Linked DNA regions of Homo sapiens: regions 2, 3 and 4 are each reported to be linked to region 1. Evidence: microRNA targets listed by miRTarBase, many of them from high-throughput screens and not tested one by one. Region 1 holds a microRNA gene; each other region holds the end of a gene's coding sequence. Distances are between the middles of the regions.

Region 1 (4,147 bases):
CCTCACAAAGAGGGGACCTAAAGACCACCCTGCTTCCACCCATGCCTCTGCTGATCAGGGTGTGTGTGTGACCGAAACTCACTTCTGTCCACATAAAATCGCTCACTCTGTGCCTCACATCAAAGGGAGAAAATCTGATTGTTCAGGGGGTCGGAAGACAGGGTCTGTGTCCTATTTGTCTAAGGGTCAGAGTCCTTTGGAGCCCCCAGAGTCCTGTGGACGTGGCCCTAGGTAGTAGGGTGAGCTTGGTAACGGGGCTGGCTTCCTGAGACAAGGCTCAGACCCGCTCTGTCCCTGGGGATCGCTTCAGCCACTAGGACCTGAAAATTGTGCACGGCCTGGGCCCCCTTCCAAGGCATCCAGGGATGCTTTCCAGTGGAGGCTTTCAGGGCAGGAGACCCTCTGGCCTGCACCCTCTCTTGCCCTCAGCCTCCACCTCCTTGACTGGACCCCCATCTGGACCTCCATCCCCACCACCTCTTTCCCCAGTGGCCTCCCTGGCAGACGCCACAGTGACTTTCTGCAGGCACATATCTGATCACATCAAGTCCCCACCGTGCTCCCACCTCACCCATGGTCTCTCAGCCCCAGCAGGCCTTGGCTGGCCTCTCTGATGGAGCAGGCATCAGGCACAGGCCGTGGGTCTCAACGTGGGCTGGGTGGTCCTGGACCAGCAGCAGCCGCCGCAGCAGCAACCCTGGTACCTGGTTAGGAACGCAGACCCTCTGCCCCCATCCTCCCAACTCTGAAAAACACTGGCTTAGGGAAAGGCGCGATGCTCAGGGGTCCCCCAAAGCCCGCAGGCAGAGGGAGTGATGGGACTGGAAGGAGGCCGAGTGACTTGGTGAGGGATTCGGGTCCCTTGCATGCCAGAGGCTGCTGTGGGAGCAGACAGTCGCGAGAGCAGCACTGCAGCTGCATGGGGAGAGGGTGTTGCTCCAGGGACGTGGGATGGAGGCTGGGCGCGGGCGGGTGGCGCTGGAGGGCGGGGGAGGGGCAGGGAGCACCAGCTCCTAGCAGCCAACGACCATCGGGCGTCGATCCCTGTTTGTCTGGAAGCCCTCCCCTCCCCTGCCCGCTCACCCGCTGCCCTGCCCCACCCGGGCGCGCCCCCTCCGCACACCGGCTGCAGGAGCCTGACGCTGCCCGCTCTCTCCGCAGCTGGCCTTCTGGTCCAAGCACGTCGGTGAGTGCGTTCTAGATCCCCGGCTGGACTACCGGCGCCCGCGCCCCTCGGGATCTCTGGCCGCTGACCCCCTACCCCGCCTTGTGTCGCAGACGGTGACCAGTGCTTGGTCTTGCCCTTGGAGCACCCGTGCGCCAGCCTGTGCTGCGGGCACGGCACGTGCATCGACGGCATCGGCAGCTTCAGCTGCGACTGCCGCAGCGGCTGGGAGGGCCGCTTCTGCCAGCGCGGTGAGGGGGAGAGGTGGATGCTGGCGGGCGGCGGGGCGGGGCTGGGGCCGGGTTGGGGGCGCGGCACCAGCACCAGCTGCCCGCGCCCTCCCCTGCCCGCAGAGGTGAGCTTCCTCAATTGCTCGCTGGACAACGGCGGCTGCACGCATTACTGCCTAGAGGAGGTGGGCTGGCGGCGCTGTAGCTGTGCGCCTGGCTACAAGCTGGGGGACGACCTCCTGCAGTGTCACCCCGCAGGTGAGAAGCCCCCAATACATCGCCCAGGAATCACGCTGGGTGCAGGGTGGGCAGGCCCCCTGACGGGGCGCGGCGCGGGGGGCTCAGGAGGGTTTCTAGGGAGGGAGCGAGGAACAGAGTTGAGCCTTGGGGCAGCGGCAGACGCGCCCCAACACCGGGGCCACTGTTAGCGCAATCAGCCCGGGAGCTGGGCGCGCCCTCCGCTTTCCCTGCTTCCTTTCTTCCTGGCGTCCCCGCCTTCCTCCGGGCGCCCCCTGCGCACCTGGGGCCACCTCCTGGAGCGCAAGCCCAGTGGTGGCTCCGCTCCCCAGTCTGAGCGTATCTGGGGCGAGGCGTGCAGCGTCCTCCTCCATGTAGCCTGGCTGCGTTTTTCTCTGACGTTGTCCGGCGTGCATCGCATTTCCCTCTTTACCCCCTTGCTTCCTTGAGGAGAGAACAGAATCCCGATTCTGCCTTCTTCTATATTTTCCTTTTTATGCATTTTAATCAAATTTATATATGTATGAAACTTTAAAAATCAGAGTTTTACAACTTTTACATTTCAGCATGCTGTTCCTTGGCATGGGTCCTTTTTTCATTCATTTTCATTAAAAGGTGGACCCTTTTAATGTGGAAATTCCTATCTTCTGCCTCTAGGGACATTTATCACTTATTTCTTCTACAATCTCCCCTTTACTTCCTCTATTTTCTCTTTCTGGACCTCCCATTATTCAGACCTCTTTCCTCTAGTTTTATTGTCTCTTCTATTTCCCATCTCTTTGACTTTGTGTTTTCTTTCAGGGAACTTTCTTTTTTTTCTTTTTTTTTGAGATGGAGTTTCACTCTTGTTGTCCCAGGCTGGAGTGCAATGACGTGATCTCAGCTCACCACAACCTCCGCCTCCTGGATTCAAGCGATTCTCCTGCCGCAGCCTCCCGAGTAGCTGGGATTACAGGCATGCGCCACCACGCCCAGCTAATTTTGTGTTTTTAGTAGAGAAGGGGTTTCTCCGTGTTGGTCAAGCTGGTCTTGAACTCCTGACCTCAGGTGATCCACCTGCCTTGGCCTCCTAAAGTGCTGGGATTACAGGCGTGAGCCACCGCGCCCAGCCTCTTTCAGGGAACTTTCTACAACTTTATAATTCAATTCTTCTGCAGAAAAAAATTTTTGGCCAGGCTCAGTAGCTCAGACCAATAATTCCAGCACTTTGAGAGGCTGAGGTGGGAGGATTGCTTGAGCTTGGGAGTTTGAGACTAGCCTGGGCAACACAGTGAGACCCTGTCTCTATTTTTAAAAAAAGTAAAAAAAGATCTAAAAATTTAACTTTTTATTTTGAAATAATTAGATATTTCCAGGAAGCTGCAAAGAAATGCCTGGTGGGCCTGTTGGCCTGTGGGTTTCCTGCAAGGCCTTGGGAAGGCCCTGTCATTGGCAGAACCCCAGATCGTGAGGGCTTTCCTTTTAGGCTGCTTTCTAAGAGGACTCCTCCAAGCTCTTGGAGGATGGAAGACGCTCACCCATGGTGTTCGGCCCCTCAGAGCAGGGTGGGGCAGGGGAGCTGGTGCCTGTGCAGGCTGTGGACATTTGCATGACTCCCTGTGGTCAGCTAAGAGCACCACTCCTTCCTGAAGCGGGGCCTGAAGTCCCTAGTCAGAGCCTCTGGTTCACCTTCTGCAGGCAGGGAGAGGGGAGTCAAGTCAGTGAGGAGGGCTTTCGCAGTTTCTCTTACAAACTCTCAACATGCCCTCCCACCTGCACTGCCTTCCTGGAAGCCCCACAGCCTCCTATGGTTCCGTGGTCCAGTCCTTCAGCTTCTGGGCGCCCCCATCACGGGCTGAGATTTTTGCTTTCCAGTCTGCCAAGTCAGTTACTGTGTCCATCCATCTGCTGTCAGCTTCTGGAATTGTTGCTGTTGTGCCCTTTCCATTCTTTTGTTATGATGCAGCTCCCCTGCTGACGACGTCCCATTGCTCTTTTAAGTCTAGATATCTGGACTGGGCATTCAAGGCCCATTTTGAGCAGAGTCGGGCCGACCTTTCAGCCCTCAGTTCTCCATGGAGTATGCGCTCTCTTCTTGGCAGGGAGGCCTCACAAACATGCCATGCCTATTGTAGGAGCTCTCCAAGAATGCTCACCTCCTTCTCCCTGTAATTCCTTTCCTCTGTGAGGAGCTCAGCAGCATCCCATTATGAGACCTTACTAATCCCAGGGATCACCCCCAACAGCCCTGGGGTACAATGAGCTTTTAAGAAGTTTAACCACCTATGTAAGGAGACACAGGCAGTGGGCGATGCTGCCTGGCCTGACTCTTGCCATTGGGTGGTACTGTTTGTTGACTGACTGACTGACTGACTGGAGGGGGTTTGTAATTTGTATCTCAGGGATTACCCCCAACAGCCCTGGGGTACAATGAGCCTTCAAGAAGTTTAACAACCTATGTAAGGACACACAGCCAGTGGGTGATGCTGCCTGGTCTGACTCTTACCATTCAGTGGCACTGTTTGTTGACTGACTG
Region 2 (5,916 bases), 110 Mb from region 1:
GGACGGGACTTGACTGTGGGTTTGATTTGGCCGGTTCCTTTGGGTTTTGTGTGTTTGTGGTTCCAGCAGGTGAGGCCGTGTCTCCAGTATCCTCTTCCCTTGTGCCCTAGCCTGGCGATGTGCCTCTTCTCTGAGGTCATTTGGGTGGACCCTGCCTGCCATAAGTGTCCCATTTTCTGTTTCTCCCACCTGGACCCGCCTGGCCTGCGAGCCCTTCTCAGCCACTGGCTCCTGCCGTGCGTCCAGCTCAGAACCAAGGTCTGGTATGCCTTGTTCCTTCTGTGGTGCCTGCCTTCGAAGCCTGCAGTCCCGCCTGTGCATGGCAGAGACCACACTCTCAGACCGCCAGCGGCCTCCTGTGGCTTGAGCCCCCTGGGGCCTTTCTCACTGTCACTCTGTCTTCCCAATGCCCTTGGACTGCTCAGGGCCACCTGCTCCAGGGTCTGCCGTAGGACAGCCCTTCCCTTCCAGGGAACTTTCACTGGCATTCTCCCCCTACTCCCCAGTTCTTTGCTATTGCATCCTCGGACATCCTCCCTAGACTCCACCCACCGCTCAGCTGCCTGCTCCGTGCAGGTAACCCCCACCCTCCCAGGGGCTGCACATGGTGGGTGCTGCAGTGGGGAGCTGTCTGGACACAGACCAGTCTCATGGGTTAGCGGCTCAGGCTCCTTGGCTCAGTTCTAGAAGCTCCCAGGTTTTGTTGGATGTTTTGGTTTTCAAAGTTATTTTCGTGTATAAAGTCATACTGTGTGAGCTAACCAGAAGCAGATGAAACAAGCCTTGGTTGTCATCTGTCTTCCCAGTTGAGGATGGACATACGTAAGTGTTCAGGTGATGGGAAAGGTTTTTCTCTGCAGGGCCCCAGCTAGGGTCAGGGGCACTGTGTGGGCAGGGCCCTCGGAGCTCCTCCCCTGGCAGTGCACGGCTAACAGCAGTCTTTCCCTCGGGTCTTGGTCTCCAACTGTGTGCCTGATGCCCACTCCTGTGCCCACTTGGGGCTTTTTCAGACCAAACCACCAGCCGGGTGACTTTCAGCCACAGTTAGTGAAGCCTTCAAGAATCTCAGCTACATCTTCATGGCAGACACTTCATGGAGGCTGCTTTGAGGCAAAGTTTATGCGTTCTGTTTAACAGATGACCTCTCAAGAGTCTCCTTCTCAGTTGAAAGGGGAGAATTTCACCAAAAACAACTGTCCGGCCCAGAGAGAGATCTGAGGTTTCTCCTGGTCTCCCACACATCAGAGCTCCTCTGCTCTGCTCGTCCTGCTTGTCTAAACCTAACTGCTTTTTCTCAGATAGTGCCCCAGCTCTTCCTTTTACCATCATCCTGCCCCTGGGATTTTGTCTCGTGCCTTTTCCCACCTTGTTCCATGATCTGGCACCGTGCCAGTCGCCTGCAGACCCCTTTCCATGAGTGACATCTGCCCCAGTGCTCCGTGCAGAGGCTCCTGCCTTGCTTTTTCACCTGCTCAGTCTAAAGGGCTTTCTTCTGGCCCAGCCACACAGGAGGGACCTCGGCCTTGTAGAGAATGGTGTGAGGTTGCATTATTGTGGGACCATCCTGAGGACTCAGCCCTTGGTGGCCCCGCAGGGCCCTCCCAGCTACCCTGGAATTTGATAGCAAGTCAAATCATGAACACCCCAGGTTTCATTTTAAACCACAATATAAACATGTTTAACTGGTTTCCTATGTTTTTCTGCTTTTCCCGCTTAAATGATAGATTTCTTGAGGAAAGAGACCAATTCTTCATGAGCTGCAACTACATATGGAGTTTTCATGCCTAACGTCTGAGTGCTCTCTGTGTGCCAGGCCATGCTGAACCGTTTTTACGTCTTATCTTCTTTCATCCCCACCAGAACCCCTTGATTAGATCGATTCTGTCCAATAGGCAGGCTGTCTCTCCTTTTAATAGATATGGAAAAGTAGCTTAAGTCTTAGAACTCCTAAATTCACTCGTGCAGCAGCGCTAGCTGGGCCAGGGTGTGGGATGTGGACTTCCCCACCAGCTTGTGCTCCCTGGGGGAGTGTGGGGAGCAGGGTCGGGGGGTTGCCATTATATTTTTGTTGTTTCTTTAACATAACTTACTTATTTAACGTAATGCCACTTTCTATAAGTATTTTTATACATGCAATGGAATAAGTAGAAAACAGTTAACCTTTTAGTGGCTGGCATTGGGAATTCTAGAATTTTGCTAACATCATTTTCTTTGTCTTTTTTTTTTCCTAGAGGAGAGAACACGTCTTACAGGATGGAAGAGAAAAGTGATTTCATGCTAGAAAAATTGGAAACTAAAAGTGTGTAGCTAGGTTATTTCGGAGTGTTATTTATCTTCCCACTTGCTCTCTGTTTGTATTTTTGTTTTGTTTTTGATTCTTGAGACTGTGAGGACTTGGTTGACTTCTCTGCCCTTAAAGTAAATATTAGTGAAATTGGTTCCATCAGAGATAACCTCGAGTTCTTGGTGTAGAAATTATGTGAATAAAGTTGCTCAATTAGAATTTTTAGGGTTCTCTTTGATAGGCCTGTTTTTCTGATGTGTGTGTTTTTTTTGGGGGGGGGTTATTTGTTTGTTTGTTTGTTTGTTTGTTTGTTTTTGAGACAGTCTCTCTCTATCGCCCAGGCTGGAGTGCGGTGGCACAATCTTGGCTCACTGCAACTTCCGCCTCCCGGGTTCAAGCGATTCTTCTGCCTCAGCCTCCCGAGTAGCTGGGATTACAGGCGCGCGCCACCACGCCTGGCTAATTTTTGTAGTTTTAGTAGAGACGGGGTTTCACCATATTGACCAGGCTGGTCTCGAGCTCCTGGCCTCGTGATCCATCTGCCTCGGCCTCCCAAAGTGCTGGGATTATAGGCGTGAGCCACTGCTCCCAGCCGTGTGTTCTTTTTTAAATTTAGATATGTCCAGAGAATCCTCTCTCCTGTTTCCCATTTCATTCGAGAATATTGTTTGCTTGTGAGACGTAAGTTCGAGCCCTGCATGCAATGACCCTTGAAGGAAAATAAACAGTCCTGGTGGTCCCAGACGCTCCTGCAGCCACAGCGCCTGTGACTCCTCATGATTCTTACTGAAGCTGTTGATGACAGGATATCATGGTGACGTTTTTGTAATGAAATATTTCACATATTCAGAATACATTGGTGAAACTCATGCTGGAGTAAATAGTTAATATATGGCCATATGAGTTTGGGTTTTTTTTTTTTATGAAAGATTTAAAATGAGATTAAATTACACATTTTTCATTCCCGCCTGCCGCCCCAGGCGATTGCTCTCCTGATGTCAGGTATCACCCCCATACCCTGCCCCATATCTCTTCCCCCCTGCGTCTTACATTGGGACCATGTTATGTGTGTGTGTGCGTGCGCACCTGCATGCTCAGGCTGCCATAACAATGCTGGAGACCAGGTGGCTTAAACAGTAGAAGTTTATTTTCTCACAGTTTTTGAAGACTAGAAGTTTAAGACAAGGGAGCCAGCATGGTTGGGCTCCGGTGAGGACTCTTCCTGGCTTGCAGAAAGCTGTCTTCTTGCTGTGTCCCCACATGCTGGAGAGAGCAAGGTCTCTGGTATCTTAGGAGGGCACTAATCCCATCATAAGGGCCCCTCACTCATGACCTCATCTAAACCTAATCACCTCCAGAAAGCCCCATCTCCAATACCATCATGCCAGGGGCTAGGACTTAATCATAATTCAATCCATAGCCTGTGAGTCAGTAAGGAGGGTGCACGCTGCTGAGAGCCGAGAACCTCGCCAGGTGCTGCAGACCTCACAGACGGCTCATTTCCTCAAAGAACAGGCCGGCAGTGTAATGCTGGCTCAGGCTCAGCCAGGGCCAGAATGGCCCCTACAGATCTAGAGCCTTCCCTCAGGCCTGCTGCTTCCTAAAGGACAACGCGACCCACCCTTTCCTCTTCAGGAAAACCATCACTGCAACCCAGAACTGCTTGTGCCTCTCCTTCCCCCACACCCAGCAGACAGCTGAAACCTTGCTGCCCGGGCCAGGCCTGGCTGCCAGAAAGGCCGGTGTTCTGTCATCCAGTGGAGGAAGGTGAGGTGGAAGGATCTGGGCATGGGTCTTGCCAACTTACAGATCTGCCAATAAGGGCCCCATAAACTATATATGGTATAGTCTCTCTGTTTCAAACTATATGAGTAAATTAATACTGTACATATGCTACAGTTTTGTTTCATCAAGAGACTGAATATGACAAGAGCTGATAGATGTGGGCATCTCACTTTGAGTTCTCTAGGTGGTTTATTGTCCTGGATGTCTGCGGACGGGTGCAAAATCCACCCGTGATCCTTGTGCATAACTGTCAACTATCTGTGGCACACACACACCTAGAGGCAAATTACAGGTCACGGATGGGTGTGCCTTGAACTTCCATAGTTATTGCCAAATTGCTCTCCCAAATGGCTGCCCCAGTTTGCCCAATGTCCCACAATATAAGAGGTACCTTTTCCCCACATTATCGCTGCCAGTTGCTGCCAGTCTGAGCTCTGGCAGGTGTAAGATGTGTTGCTTCACAGTTTGCTTTCTCTTGATGACTTGTTGAGCATGTCTTCCTGGGAGTCCTGGTTTTTTAAATGTCCTCAGGACACTGGTTTTATATTTGCCTCTTCCTGATTTGGATGTATTCTGGATCCAATGATATGAAACAATCCAGTTTTTAACTTCTATCATCTATCATTTGTCATTTAACTTTGTGTTATTTTATTGTATGGAAGTTACATTTTAACACAATGCTATGGTTCGGATGCCATTTGTCTTGAAATTTAATTGCACATGTAATTGTTAGGGGGTGGGGGCCTAGTGGCAGGTTTTTGGGTCATGGGAGTGGACACCCCATGAATAGATGAATGCCCTCTTGAAGGAGTGAGTTCTCACTCTCTGTGAGAGCGGGTTGCCTTTGCACCTGCCCACTCACCTTTCTGCTTTTCCACTGTGTCTCGAGATAGCACAAGGCCCTCACCAGAAACCAAGCAGATGCCAACATCATGCTCTTGGACTTTCCAGCCACCAGAATTAGGAGCTAAACAAACCTTTTCTGTATAAATTACCCAGCCTTGGGTATTCTGTTTTAGCAACGCTAAACATACTAAGGCAGATAACTTCCTCCTTTTTTCTGGCTTCTGCTGTTACTTTTAAAAGAAAAACTACCATACTCTCAGGATAAAAAAAATACTGTACTGTCTTAAATTTTGCTCTCTCCATTTAGGTCTATAAACCATCTGGAAATGTTTCTGCACAGGCATGGAAGGAGAGCCAATTGTACAGATGTACAGCTGCCTCCTTGTACTCTATCGAATGGTGCACTCTCCCCACTGCATCAGTGGTGTTCAAGCTTGTTTAGCAGCAATACTCTTTATCACTGGGCAGGAAATCAAGTCACCATTTGCTCCACAAAACAGTTTGAAGACCACTGTTCCAGAGAAGGCTTTAGCACGGGTTGGATTTTGGACAGCATAGCAGCTCTCTCCTGTTGATGGGACCCCGGATGGTGAATTCCTTTGGCAGTTGGACTGGGAACAGTTTGGAAGTCCTGGTTTACCTGCTCTGGGGACACCTAGACTATTCTGATGGCCTGAGCATAGCAAAAGCCTTCCCCACACTGCCCCTCTCTTCCCCTACATGTTCTTAGACATGGGGCTAATTTCTCCTTTTTGACCAGCAGCCAAATTCTGTTCCAGGCCTCACTGGGCTCCAGTTGCAACAGTCCAAACTTAACTTTGGTAACTTTAAGTCGCAAAGGGAAGGGCCTGGAATAAATGTCAGTTCCTCCATGCGGCCTTTCTGGATTGTCTCCAGACTTGCACACCCACCCTCCTGTGCCACTGTAGCACTTGCACCCTGGCTGCAGTCCTCCCTCTGATGTGTGTTGTGGTTAGGTGCCTTTCCCTTTAAGAAGTGTC
Region 3 (5,916 bases), not on the chromosome of region 1:
GTTTAGTGTAGCCACCTTCATCAGTGATCTTAGCTAGATCTTCCGGATAACTTGCTGCAGCTTCTCCATCAGGGTTTGCTGCTTCACCTTGCACTTTTATGTTATGGAGACGGCTTCTTTCCTTAAACCTCATGAACCAACCTCTGCTAGCTTCACACGTTTCTCCTGCAGCTTCTTCACCTCTCTCAGAATTCATGGACTTGAAGAGAGTTTGGGTCTTGCCCTGAATTAGACTTTGGCTTAAGGGAATGTTGTGGCTGGTTTCGTCTTCTATCCTGACCACTTTCTCATTTAAGCAGTAAGGCAGTTTTGCTTTCTTATTCTTGTGTTCACTGGAGTATTAGTATTATTATTTTCTTCAAGAACTTTTCCTTTGCATTATATACTATTACTTCCTTCAAGAACTTTTCCTTTGCATTCACAGCTTGGCTGTTTGGTGCAAGAGGCTTAGCTTTCAGCCTGTCTTGGCTTTCAGCATGCTTCCTCACTAAGCTTAGCCATTTCTAGCTTCTGATTTAAAGTGAGAGACATGCGACTCTTCCTTTCATTTCAACACTTAGCGGCCATTGTAGGGTTGTTAATCTTCCTAATTTCGGTGTTGATATGTCTCAGGAAATACAGATGCCCAAGAAAAGGAAGAGAGGCAGGGAAGAGCTCATCGGTGGAGCAGTCAGAACACACACAATATTTGTCGATTAAGTTTGTCAACTTCTATGAGTGCAGTTCCTGTTACCCCCAGAATAATTACATACAACAGGGTGATTATAGTCAATAATAACTTAATTGTGCAGTATGAAAACTAAAAGAGTGTAAATGGATTGATTGTAACCAAGGATAAATGTTTGAGGGGATAGATCCCTTATTTTCCATGATGTGATTTTTACGCATTTGCATGCCTGTATCAAAACGTCTCATGTATCCCATAAGTATATACACCTACTGTGTACCCACAAAAATAAAAAACAGAAATTATTTTAAAAGACTAAAAAACAATAAAAACAATTGCAGTAATAATATCAAAGCTCACTGATCACAAATCACCATAACAGATATAATAATAATGGAAAAGTGTAAAATTGGTGAGAATTTCCAAAAAAAAAATTGCAACATCTGTGAAGCAGTATGAAAATGAGGTGCAATAAAACAAGGTACGCCTGTGTGGCCTTAATAAATACGTGCTGAATGAAAGGAGGTAAGGGTGAATGTTCCCGTAAGTGAAGAGGTTGGGAATCTAAACCTGACAACGGAAGGAGCCAGAAGCTAAAACTTTAATTTGCATTTGGCCTGTATTGGTGTGGGTCTAAGGTCTCAGCCTCTCTAAGCCAGAGAATGTGAAAAACTGGATAAAGAAGACCCATGGGCACTTGGTGGTGGGGAGGCATCTCCTTTTTTGGAGAAAACAGAGCCTAACACTCTCCAATCAACCCAACCCTCTCCAATCTACCCAACCCTCATCTTCCAACTCTTCTCCATCATAGGACCCAAAAGGGGGAAACATGCCTGGACCCACAGAGTGCGTGAGAGAAAGCAACTGGTGATTTATGAAGAGATCAGCGACCCTCAGGAAGATGACGAGTAACTCCGTAAGTGAACCTTTGGCTCATCTCCCACATCCTTGCAGATGTGCTATTCTGTTATGGTACTGGTATCCCATCTTATCAGTTGTTCCCCAAATCATTCCCTTCTCATAATTTTCTAGGGTACAGCATTGAGGCTGAATGATGAAATTTCCCATGTTTTTTTTTGTGGGTGGGGGAGTCTCCTTTTGTTCCCCCAGGCTGGAGTGCAGTGGCATGATCTCGGCTCACTGCAAGCTCCGCCTCCCGTGTTCACGCCATTCTCCTGCCTCAGCCTCCCCAGTAGCTGGGGCTACAAGCACCCGCCACCACGACCGGGTAATTTTTTTTCTTGTATTTTTAGTAGAGACAGGGTTTCGCCATGTCAGCCAGAATGGTCTCAATCTCCTGACCTCGTGATCCATCTGCCTCCGCCTCCCAAAGTGTTGTGACTACAGGCGTGAGCCTCTGCGCCTGCCTAACCATGCTCTTTCTACTCCCTGCCCTCTATATCCAGGGATCCTCCCTACCCAGGATGCTGTGGGTTCCCAAACCCCAGGTCAGCACTGATATGCGGGCCACACCTTCCTCTAGCCTAGGAATTGATAACCCAGGCGAGGAAGTCACTGTGGTATGAGCAGATGGTTCACTTCAAGGAACCATGGAAGGCGTGTACAGGTCCTGAGGTAGGGCAGAATCGGAGTGGGCAGGGTCTGCAGGTCAGGAGGAGTTGAGATTGAGTTGTCATGTGGTGGGAACTCACTGCCACTTACTTTCCTTCTCGCTTCTTGCCTCAGCCTCGGGGATATGACACATGCCCATGATGAGAAGCAGAACGTGGTGACCTTTCACGAACATGGGCATGGCTGCGGATCCCTCGTCATCAGGTGTATAGCAAGTGAAAGCAAGTGTTCACAACAGTGAAAAGTTGAGCGTCATTTTTCTTAGTGTGCCAAGAGTTCGATGTTAGTGTTTCTGTTGTATTTTGTTACAGTGTGCCATTCTGTTAGATATTAGCGTTTTCACTGATGAGCAAGACATACTTAATGCATATTTCAGTTTGTGTATCCATGCACCTACCTCAGAAAACAAGTATCGTCAGGTATTCTCTGCATAGAACAACACTACCCTCCTCTCTTCCCAGATGTGACCACTGAGGGCAGTTCTGAGTGTTTAATTTCAGATTTTTTCCTCTGCATTTACACAAACACACACACATGCCACACAGACACACATGCGCGCGCGCGCGCACACACACACACACACACACACACACACACACACACACCAAGTACCAGTATAGGCATCTCCCAACTGCTTTTCCCCATGTGTCCTGGTCAAGCCCCCCTCACTCTGTTTCCTGTTCAGCATGTACTCCCCTCATCCGATTCCCCTCTATCAGTCACTGCCAGTTAATAAACCTTTGCAAACGTTCCCCAGTTGTTTGCTCCTCTCATTATTGTGCACACAGCTCTGTGCACTTGTGTGAATATTTCTTTAGGAAAGATTCTTAGAAGTGGAATTGCTGTGTCAAAGGAGTCATTTATTCAACAAAACCCTAATGAGTGCGTCCTCGTGCTGAGCGCTGTTATAGGTGCTGAAGAGACATCAGGGAACAGGGCAGACAGATGTTCCTGACCACCATTCTAGAGGAGGATGTTTCCAGTTGTTGGGTTTTTTTTGCTTTTTTCTAGAGACAGGGTCTTACTCTGTCCAAGCTGGAGTGCAGTGGCATGATCATAGCTCAATGCAGCCTTGATCTCCTGGGCTCAAGCGATTCTCCCACCTCAGCCTCCAGCGAAGCTGTGACTACAGGCACACACCATCATGACCCACTAATTTTTTCAGGTTTTGTCAAGAAAGTCTCCCTATATTACCCAGGCTGGTCTCGAACTCCTGGGCCAAAGCGATCCTCCCATCTTGGCCTCCTAAAATGTTGGGATTACAGGCATGAGCCACCGCAACTGGCCTCCAGTTTTTATTTTGATAGAGACTATACACTTCAGTCCTGGAGCAGTATTCTGCAGCAGGTGGTTGGGAATCTTGGCCTTTGCTCTCTGAACGATTTTCGGGTTCTAGGGCTGGGACGGTCCATTTGGGAGTATGTGGTAGGAGACACAGATGAAATCATCATCTGGGGAATGCAGAGGGATGGGGAAGATGCGTGCACTGTAGACCCTGTGATGGCCAGGGAATAGAAGAGTTCACTTAGTCTCCATGCGGGGGAGCAACGGTGGGAAAGTCCCCTGGACAGAAGCATGAGACTGCCCATCAAGGGTCTCACCACCCAAGGGCCTGGGGGCTGGGGTGGAGACGATGATTTGGGAATGGGACAGTTCTTTCTCACAGGTACCACTGCACGGTGCAGAGGTGAAACAGTTGTGGGGAAGGGAAGGGCAGAGGGGAGTCTGTTTTAGAACAAACCATTGTGTGTGAATGGAGACATTAATGCTTGAAACACAACGGACTTGAAACAGCAGCCCCAGGTGGAGGCAGGATTGGAGCTGTTTTGACCATTCATACCCCATCACCTTGGCCTCCTGGTTCTCCCCAGCCTTGGAAGGAGAACACTATGATCATTATGCCTATATGATAGATGAGAGATAGAGTCCCAGACAGATGGTAGGTGTCTTGTCACAGGTCCTACAGCTGGCAGGTGCAGGAGGAGCTGAGTTTGGAGCTCACTGACTTCAGAAACATTAAGGAGGACAGGTGTGTGTGGTGGAGGGAGGGAGAATTGAACAAACTCCGGGTTCTGTCCCCAGTTGCAAGGTAGAGGCTGTGGGTTCATTTTCCCAAGACAAGGAGCCCTAGGAGAGAGAGAGTGCGGGGAGGGAGAGGCGGTCATGGTCACAGCAGGGACAGTGGGAGACAGAGATATGCAGGGTGGGCAGAAGAGGGGCAGGCAAAGAAGCAGGGGATACCCAAGGCCAAGTGTGGGCTGTCACAGCCACCAGAGGGAGAGGGTGCCAGGAAGGAGGTTGTGGGGCTCCAGGAGCAACAGAGGTTCCCCAGATCTGTGAGCATGCCCTGCCTGGCACTTCAGGAAGAGATGGCTTCCACCCAGGTCAGTGTGGACGTGCCTCTACCTGTGTCTCAGAAGAAACAAATTCTATTTTATCCCAATATAGTTCTGTATTACACAAATGTAACATTCCGATACTAGATATTGAGTGCCTTATCCTCCATGCAAAGAGGAGAGAATACCCTAAAAGAGATACTGAAGGATTTGACTTTTCTTTCTCCCTGGGATGATGGGATCCATAAGTTGGGTCCCCCAGCCCACAAGACAGGTGCAAGGAAGGGTGGCTGGAAGATTGTGAGTCATGACAGGGAACATTTTTCCTTAGGTTCCTTGGGTATATAAAGCTCCCGACTATCTGTCTATCATGGATAAAGAGTGAACATGGTCCCCTCTCCACAAATGTGTTTCTCTACTTCATTATTACTGTGAAGGGCTGAAGTTACACCAAGTCCTGATACATTTCTTTTTCGTGTTTTTTTTTTTTGAGACAGTATCGCAGTCTGTCGCCCAGGCTGGAGTGCAGTGATGCAGTGATCGAGGCTGCTCACTGCAGCCTCGATCTCCCAGGCTCAAGGGATTCACCCACTTCAGCTTCCGATCTAGCTGGGACTACAGGCACACACCACCACACTCAGCTGGTTTTTGTATTTTTTTGTAGAGACGGCATCCACTATGTTGCCCAGGGTGTTCTGGATCCCCTGGCCTCAGGCAATCTTCCTGCCTCAGCCTCCCAAAGTGCTGGGATGACAAGTGTGAGCCACCTCGCCAGGCCTTCAGTTTCTTTAATGAATAATTATCAGAGTTTCATCTTAGAGGCAAAAGTGGCTACTGCCAGCCAATCTGTCTGTGGTGTTGGAGGGGAATCTGGCTGATTCAGACGTTTCTGATGAACTTTTAAATTAACTTACATGATGATTTTCCTAAGGCCCTTTCCAGCTCCGTGTTTTCTTTGATTCAGGGTTTGGAGATTTTCAGAGGCTTTGTTACAAAGAGCGTCTCCTGGGCGGTCGCGGTGACCCACACTGTAATATCAGCACTTCGGGAGGCCGAGGCAGGCAGATCACTTGAGATCAAGAGTTTGAGACCAGCCTGGCCAACAGGGTGAAACCCCCGTCTCTACTAAAAATACAAAAATTAGCCGGTAGTGGTGGCTGGCCTGTGAATTCCAGTTACTGCAGGGAGTGAGGCGGGAGAATCCCTTGAACCTGGGAGACGGAGGGTGCAGTGAGCCGAGATCATGCCACTGCACTCCAGCCTGGGCGACAGAGTAAGTCTCTGTCTCAGACAGCATCTCTCGCCTATAGTGATTTGAGCTGTGGTCTTGTCTCCTTGGGT
Region 4 (5,916 bases), not on the chromosome of region 1:
GGCCGAGTCCGGGCTGGCTGCCCTGCGGCGGCAAAGGAGATGGCTGGAGGTTGGGATGGATGCAATGATGAGTGTGCCTCAGGGTCTGGTTTCTGATTCCATAGAACAGCTGTGGTGACAGAGCTGTGGCCAACTGCTCCCTGGGCCGAGGGTGAAGGAAGCTGTGCTCCCACTGGTGCTAGGGAAGGCTGCTGCAGGGCTGGAGGCCTGGGTGCTGGACTGCTGGGGCAGGCTGCCTGCTGTACCCCCAAGCTGCAGTCAGGGCTCGCCCTGAGGCCCTGAGGTGGAGAGAGAGCAGCTGTCTCGTACACACCCATGTGCACAAGTGCAGGCACACACACACACACACACACACACACAAAAGACGTTCTCACTTCATCCCCGAATTCTCCCTCCTACACACAAAGCTAGTTCCCAGTTCTCCAGTCCCCCTCCATCCCTCTCCACTTCTGTAGTCTCTGCTGGGCTGCACTGGGGATCTGGTCCCAATTCCCCTCTCTTCCCTTGCTGCCCCTGTAACAAAGGGCTGGCCATGTGACATGATCTCCTCAGGCTTCAGAGAAGTGATTTTACCCTGAGCTACACAGGCAGGAAGACCACCAGCCTGGAAGGTGTGTGTGCAGGGTTGGGAAGAGGGGAAGGGCAGGTAGCAGGGGCCGAGGCCTGGGTTGCCCCACAGGGAAACTCACTATCCTCAGCAGGGCCCTTCAGCCACTTTCCCAACAAACAGCAAATCTCCGCCGATTGAACTCTGACTGAGGCAATGGGGGCATGCCAGGCAACAAGGTGGAGGTTTGCTACCGTGGGAGCAGGGAGAGCGTGGAACACAGACGCTCTGGGTGTTGAAGAGGAGGCTTCACCCTTAAATCCACACCAACAGCCCCCTTCACTTCCCCCGGTGAAGAACGAAGGACCCTGTGGGATTTCTACTTCAAATCTCTCATTTATTCCGACATCCACTCGGTTATGACTCCAAGTTATCAAAGATGCAAGACAAGAAGTCTAGAGCAGGAGTGGTGAAGTGGAGGTGGAGAAAGACGGCGGAGAGGGCTGTGTTCCTGGCCCCTCCTTCTCTTCCAATTTAGGGCACCGTTTGAAAAGTGTACAAGTAGTGTCCCTTAGCACAGACTAGACAGCAGAAAAGGACAGTGCAGTTGAGTGGGGGAAGCTTCCTTTTCCACAGGGTGGGGCCCTGCGGCTGCAGCGGGCAGGCAGGCAATCTCGAGCCTGGTTGGAGACCGTGCCCTGAGCAGCGTGGGCTATGTGGGGAAGAGCTGGGGCCCACCATCTCTCCAGCACCCCAAACCCAGATTCTGATTTGTGGGGCTAGCAGGGCTTAGCTAGGAAAGCGGTAGGAGGGAGGGGATTGCACAGGACGCTTGTACTCAGGGACCCCATCAATCAGGGGCAAGAAGTGGGTGATGGTTAACTGGGTCTTGATTTTTACAAAGGCAGGACGTACGAATGATGTTATTTCTGGCAAGGAGGACACGGCTGCTGTGGTTGATTGGCTGTGGAATTCCAGGGGAGCAAGGCACTAGGAAGTGGGGAACGCTGCCAGGCCCAGCAGCTCATCAGGAGCTTGCACTTGGCCCAGTTAGGGCTGGCCGTGGGACGGGCTTGTTGAAGCTGCTGCCGCCATAAGCTGCCCCTCTGCACCAGGAGACAGATCCCATTACCCCACCTACAGCTGCTTCCTGGTACAAGAGAAGAGTTACCATTTGAAATGACTCCACAGGAGAGTCTGACAAACATGTTTGCTTTTCACTGACAATTAAAATTGTTTTGCTGCTAATCTTGTTTTATTGTGGTCTTTCATCCATCAGCAAGCATCCCTGCACGCAAGATCAGAGTTGGGTAAATACATCCAGACCCTGCCAGGATTAGGGCAAGAGGGAGTGCTCTGGGCCGGCAGATCTTTTTCGGAAATTCTCACTTCTTGGAGCACTAAAGGGTTGTTAGTCTATCTGGGCAAGCCTCGTTTCCCTGGAGAAAATGGAGTCTCAGAGATTAGTGACTGGTCCTAGAGCTAATGAGTGACCAAAGTGTGACCAGAGCCCAGGTCTGCTTCTCAACCCAGGGCACTTTGATTCCAGATTGAGATGTAAGGTGACAGGTGCCTTAATAGTGGCGCAAAAGATGTGCATTCCCCTCTTCCTCCCTCCCCGCTCCCTGCTCCCCCAGCGGCACCCTGACCTTCCTCAAATGCAGAATCAAGATTTCAGCAGGGGGGCCAGCCCTTTCCCTGCCCCACCCTCCTCGAATTCAGTGACTCAGGAGTGGGAAGGGGGTTAGCTATGCCCTTAGAAGGGGGCCAGCTTCTGCAGAGGCCACTGGAAAACTCATCAGGATTCTCACTCACAAAGCCACTGCCACATTCTAAGTAGGAAGTCGGAGTTGGAAATGAGGCTGGTGTGAGACACAATAAATGGCTCATCGCCAGGAAACTGGGGAGTAGGGCGGCCAAGGGAGGGCGGCGAGCGTGGAATCCCAAGGCTAAGTCACGTCCCTCCCATCCTCAGGACTGGGCTGTTGCTCTGGTGAGATGAATGAAGATCCTGCTCCACGGCGTCACAGGTGGATGCTTACATAGAATGCCGGGCTCTGGGGGACTTGACGTGGTTTCAGCCGCTGCAGCATCGCCCCACAGAGATTCTGTGCTCTTCCTGTTCACCAGCCCGCTGTCTGCCATGGGGATTGGTCACGTGTTAACCACCTTTCGTTCAAGCTGTTTCGGGATCAGACTTTTCCTTCTCTGGTACATGGGAGACCTTTCCTCTCTGCAGCTCCTGAATGTACAAAGCCCCTGGTGCCTACCCGTGGTTACTGTGTGTGTGTGTGTGTGTGTGTGTGTGTGTGTGTGTCTGTGCGCGCGCGCGCGCGTGCGTACACCTGGGAACGGTTATGCACACCCTCACAGGACTGCATCCACACAAGCTACTCGGCGTGGTGGGCTGGGCCGAGAGACAGTCAGCTGGTCTCTTTGCTAAGCTACCAGAAGTCGGCTAACAAAATGAAAAAACTTCTCCAGCAGGGGGCGCTGGTTCCTAAGTCAGAGAAAGGATTTCGGGGAACACAAGGTTAGACACTTTCTGGTGCAGTCCCCACAAGCCACCTTAGGCTTTAAAGTCAACTTGACACGTCCCACGAGGAAGGGGGCAGGTGAGATGTGATACGTTCAGGAATCAACGACCCTACGGGAGCAGCTACAGTGACAGCAGTAGCTATGGTAACCAACGTACAAAGCTGGGCTGTGAACTAGCTGTTGGAGTCGTTTCAGCAAGCGCGTCCTGAAGCAGTGCCGTTGACGCCCCGCCCCTCGCTTCTCCAATGCTGGAATTGTAGCTCTCACTTCTCTCCTTGCCCTCTGTCCCCTTTTCCTAGGCACGGATGCTTCATCTCCCGAGGACCCGGGAGGCCTCCTGAGCCTTTGCTGAGCTTTCCCTGGTGCTCCTTTTTGCAGTCCAGCGAATCCAGGGGACTGGGGCACACTGCAAGGGGTTGTGGTGGTGCTGGGGCTGCCAGAGGAGTGTCCCAACCAAGAAACTGGCGAAGCTGCAGACTCGACCTAGCAGTCCCCCACCTCTGGCCCACAGAGTTGGAGCCAGGCCCTGTCTTGGTTCTCAATGCACTCAAAAGCTTAAATCCTAGTAAACCCTCCACTGCGGAGCGAGAAAAGCCAAAGAAACAGAAACAACCCATGTGGGGCTGTTGGAGGGTCATTCATCACCCCCATGGCCCCCGCCAGGGCAGCAGTGTGGGTGTGTGTGCGGGTCGGGGTGGAAGGATTTACACGTCTGTACTAATAGCCCTTGGATTGGTGAAGGCCTCACGCCCAGAGCCTGGCCAGGTCACCGGGTAACTCTGGGGTGCTGCCAATTTGAGGGATGGGGGTCCCCCCTCTTTGTAGTATGTGGGAGCAAAGGAGAGCCTCTCGCCTCCACCCCCATTGGGCACCATGTCAGCCGTCCGTATGTAAAAGGGGGAGCTGTATGGGGAGCAGGTAGTGCAGTGGCTCGCGGCCACCCCACAGGGCTGGCTGCAGGGCTCGCTGGTGAGAGGCGCCAGGCTGCCTCTGCCGTCCAGGGCTTGGGAGCTGCAGGCATTGCAGGTGGGGCCTCTGGGATGCGTGGGAAGGTCGTGCTCCCGCTCCTCCTCCTCGTCTGCAACCTCGGTTCCGCTCTTCTTGCAGCAGTAATACTGTGCGGAAGGGCAGAGGGATGCCTGAGAGGGTGAATGCTCCCCCCGCCCCATGCATTTTTGAGCGTGCACAGGTGCCCCTGTCCCCTGCTCCATGGAGAACCTAGTGCCAGGCACTGAACCCCAGGGGCCTGCTCCACAAGTTTCTAATCCCAGCTTTGCAAGGCCAGTACTGCTTTCCTTTTCCCCTCCCACCACTCCTCGCAGTAACTCCAGGCTGTAGTTGAGCGGGGCAGGGACACACACATCATATTGAGGACAGGGCTGGAGCTGCTGGCGGCAGCTTTCAGAGCCTCCCCAGAATGGTGCTCTTCCCATGCTCCTGAAATCTCAGAGGTGCAGGAGACACAACCCAATGACCCCGTATCTTTCCAGCACACTTTCTGTGTGCTCTGAGTGGGCAGGCTGGGGGGCACTTAGCTCCCTTCCGACCAGCCCCAACTCCCATCCTCCTTGACTTACGCCTGCTACATTCCATAGCTTTGGGCTCTGTGGGCCCTGAAGTCGGCCTCCAGTTTCTGCCCCCATAATGAAAAAGAGGTTTGCTGGTGGCCTGGCAGCCTCTGGCTACGGGTCCCGGGGACTGACCTGGAGCCTGCAGTAGCACAGGACGGCAATGATGCAGAGGAGGATCACCGTAGCTAGGATTCCGCCAGTGATCACAACCGTTCCCGCTGTCATCCGCCCGGCGCCCCATCAAACTCTGCAAAGATGTGCGGAGGGCTGAGGACCAGCTGTGGCTGCAGCCCTGGGCTGGGCCGGGGGGAGTCTTCCTGGAACTGCCCCGAGGCTGGGGCAGGGGGCCTGAGAGCAGCAGGTGCCGGGAGGGCCAGGCCCCAGGGGTTTCCTGAAGGCTGAGGACGACTGTGGCTCCAGACTGGGCCAGCCTAAGTGGGCGAAGTTGAGTACCCAGTTTCAAAAAGTTCTCACGATCTTTCCCCTTTGGTGCTCTTCTCGCCTTTCCTCTCCCGTCACACCCTTCTTAGCTCCCGCTTCTGCGTGGCTGCAGACACAGAGGAACAGCTGCCGCTGATTGCGGGGCTCCTCCCTGTGTGGCATCATGCTAAGCACCCCCACGCATCTTACTACATCCTCGCGATAACCCTTCGGGGCAGTTATTAGCTATCCCTACCGCACGCATGCTGAACGGGGCTGCGAATAATTTGGCTGCGATTCCACCCAGCCCGTTCATCCCAAAGGCTGTGCTCTTGATCCCCGCCCTCTTGGCACACACCCCAGTGGTCCCTGAGCCTTTGGCCCGGGCTGGCGGGGAAAGGGCCACATCTCGAAAACACCAGGTGGCTCTTCTCTGGCTCAAACCAGCACTTCTTTTGGGGGTATCTCTCTTCTCCTTCAAACCCTCCTGGAAAACAAAGGCAAGGCGAGCCCAGAGGGAGTGGTGTGTGGCATTCTGGGCCCTGGAAGGCTGTGGCCAAGCTGGGGAGACTGGTCCTGGCTTCTGAGGCTGAATGAACAGGACAGAGGCAAGCTCTGGGCATGAGGCTGTCATGGCTTCAGACAGATTCTCCTTTTAGGTCAGTGAATGGGGATTTCTGAGCCTCCCAGGTGCATTGGGACCAAGGGGCAGGAGGGTGGGGAATGGGAAGTTGGCATCTTGGAGATGGAAAAATGACTACGATCACTTACATTCAGTAAAGGGAACGGCGACCTGCAAGACAACAGAAAGGACAGAGATGTTGGAAGAAGAGAGTTACT

Evidence for each region. Region 1 holds the annotated microRNA hsa-miR-4783-5p (GGCGCGCCCAGCUCCCGGGCU, at 1,831-1,851, opposite strand). A microRNA usually pairs through its seed, bases 2 to 8, with sites in the 3' UTR of a target mRNA and lowers its output. Matches are read on the target gene's strand: a 7mer-m8 pairs with bases 2 to 8, a 7mer-A1 pairs with bases 2 to 7 and ends in A, and an 8mer does both.
Region 2: miRTarBase lists HJURP as a target of hsa-miR-4783-5p. Seed matches in the 3' UTR shown: 7mer-m8 at 2,723-2,729.
Region 3: miRTarBase lists SSX5 as a target of hsa-miR-4783-5p. Seed matches in the 3' UTR shown: 7mer-A1 at 2,801-2,807.
Region 4: the mRNA of FAM163A is a reported target of hsa-miR-4783-5p. Seed matches in the 3' UTR shown: 7mer-A1 at 2,868-2,874.

Annotation. Positions count from the first base shown.
Region 1 is chr2:127,421,756-127,425,902 of GRCh38, forward strand. It overlaps MIR4783 (microRNA 4783), which reads right to left and starts at 1,863; the gene lies at 1,782-1,863. It overlaps PROC (protein C, inactivator of coagulation factors Va and VIIIa), which reads left to right. Exons shown (of 9, transcript NM_000312.4): 4 at 1,162-1,186; 5 at 1,279-1,416; 6 at 1,519-1,653. LOC105373608 (a long non-coding RNA gene) reads right to left here. Exons shown (of 2, transcript XR_007087228.1): 2 at 2,945-4,147. RefSeq lists enhancers at 731-1,529, 1,530-2,326.
Region 2 is chr2:233,833,968-233,839,883 of GRCh38, reverse strand. HJURP (Holliday junction recognition protein) reads left to right here. Exons shown (of 9, transcript NM_018410.5): 9 at 2,232-3,182. The coding sequence ends at 2,307. Among named protein-coding and RNA genes, the nearest start is that of HJURP, 18 kb to the left of the region's middle.
Region 3 is chrX:48,183,294-48,189,209 of GRCh38, reverse strand. It overlaps SSX5 (SSX family member 5), which reads left to right. Exons shown (of 8, transcript NM_175723.2): 7 at 1,479-1,583; 8 at 2,354-2,990. The coding sequence ends at 1,579. Among named protein-coding and RNA genes, the nearest start is that of SSX5, 11 kb to the left of the region's middle.
Region 4 is chr1:179,812,063-179,817,978 of GRCh38, reverse strand. It overlaps FAM163A (family with sequence similarity 163 member A), which reads right to left. Exons shown (of 5, transcript NM_173509.3): 3 at 5,848-5,869; 4 at 4,789-4,903; 5 at 1,781-4,200. The coding sequence starts at 4,881. The coding sequence ends at 3,790. LOC105371634 (a long non-coding RNA gene) reads left to right here. Exons shown (of 5, transcript XR_007066756.1): 3 at 105-611; 4 at 1,452-3,080; 5 at 3,385-3,684. Among named protein-coding and RNA genes, the nearest start is that of MIR12116, 11 kb to the right of the region's middle. RefSeq lists a silencer at 4,660-4,885.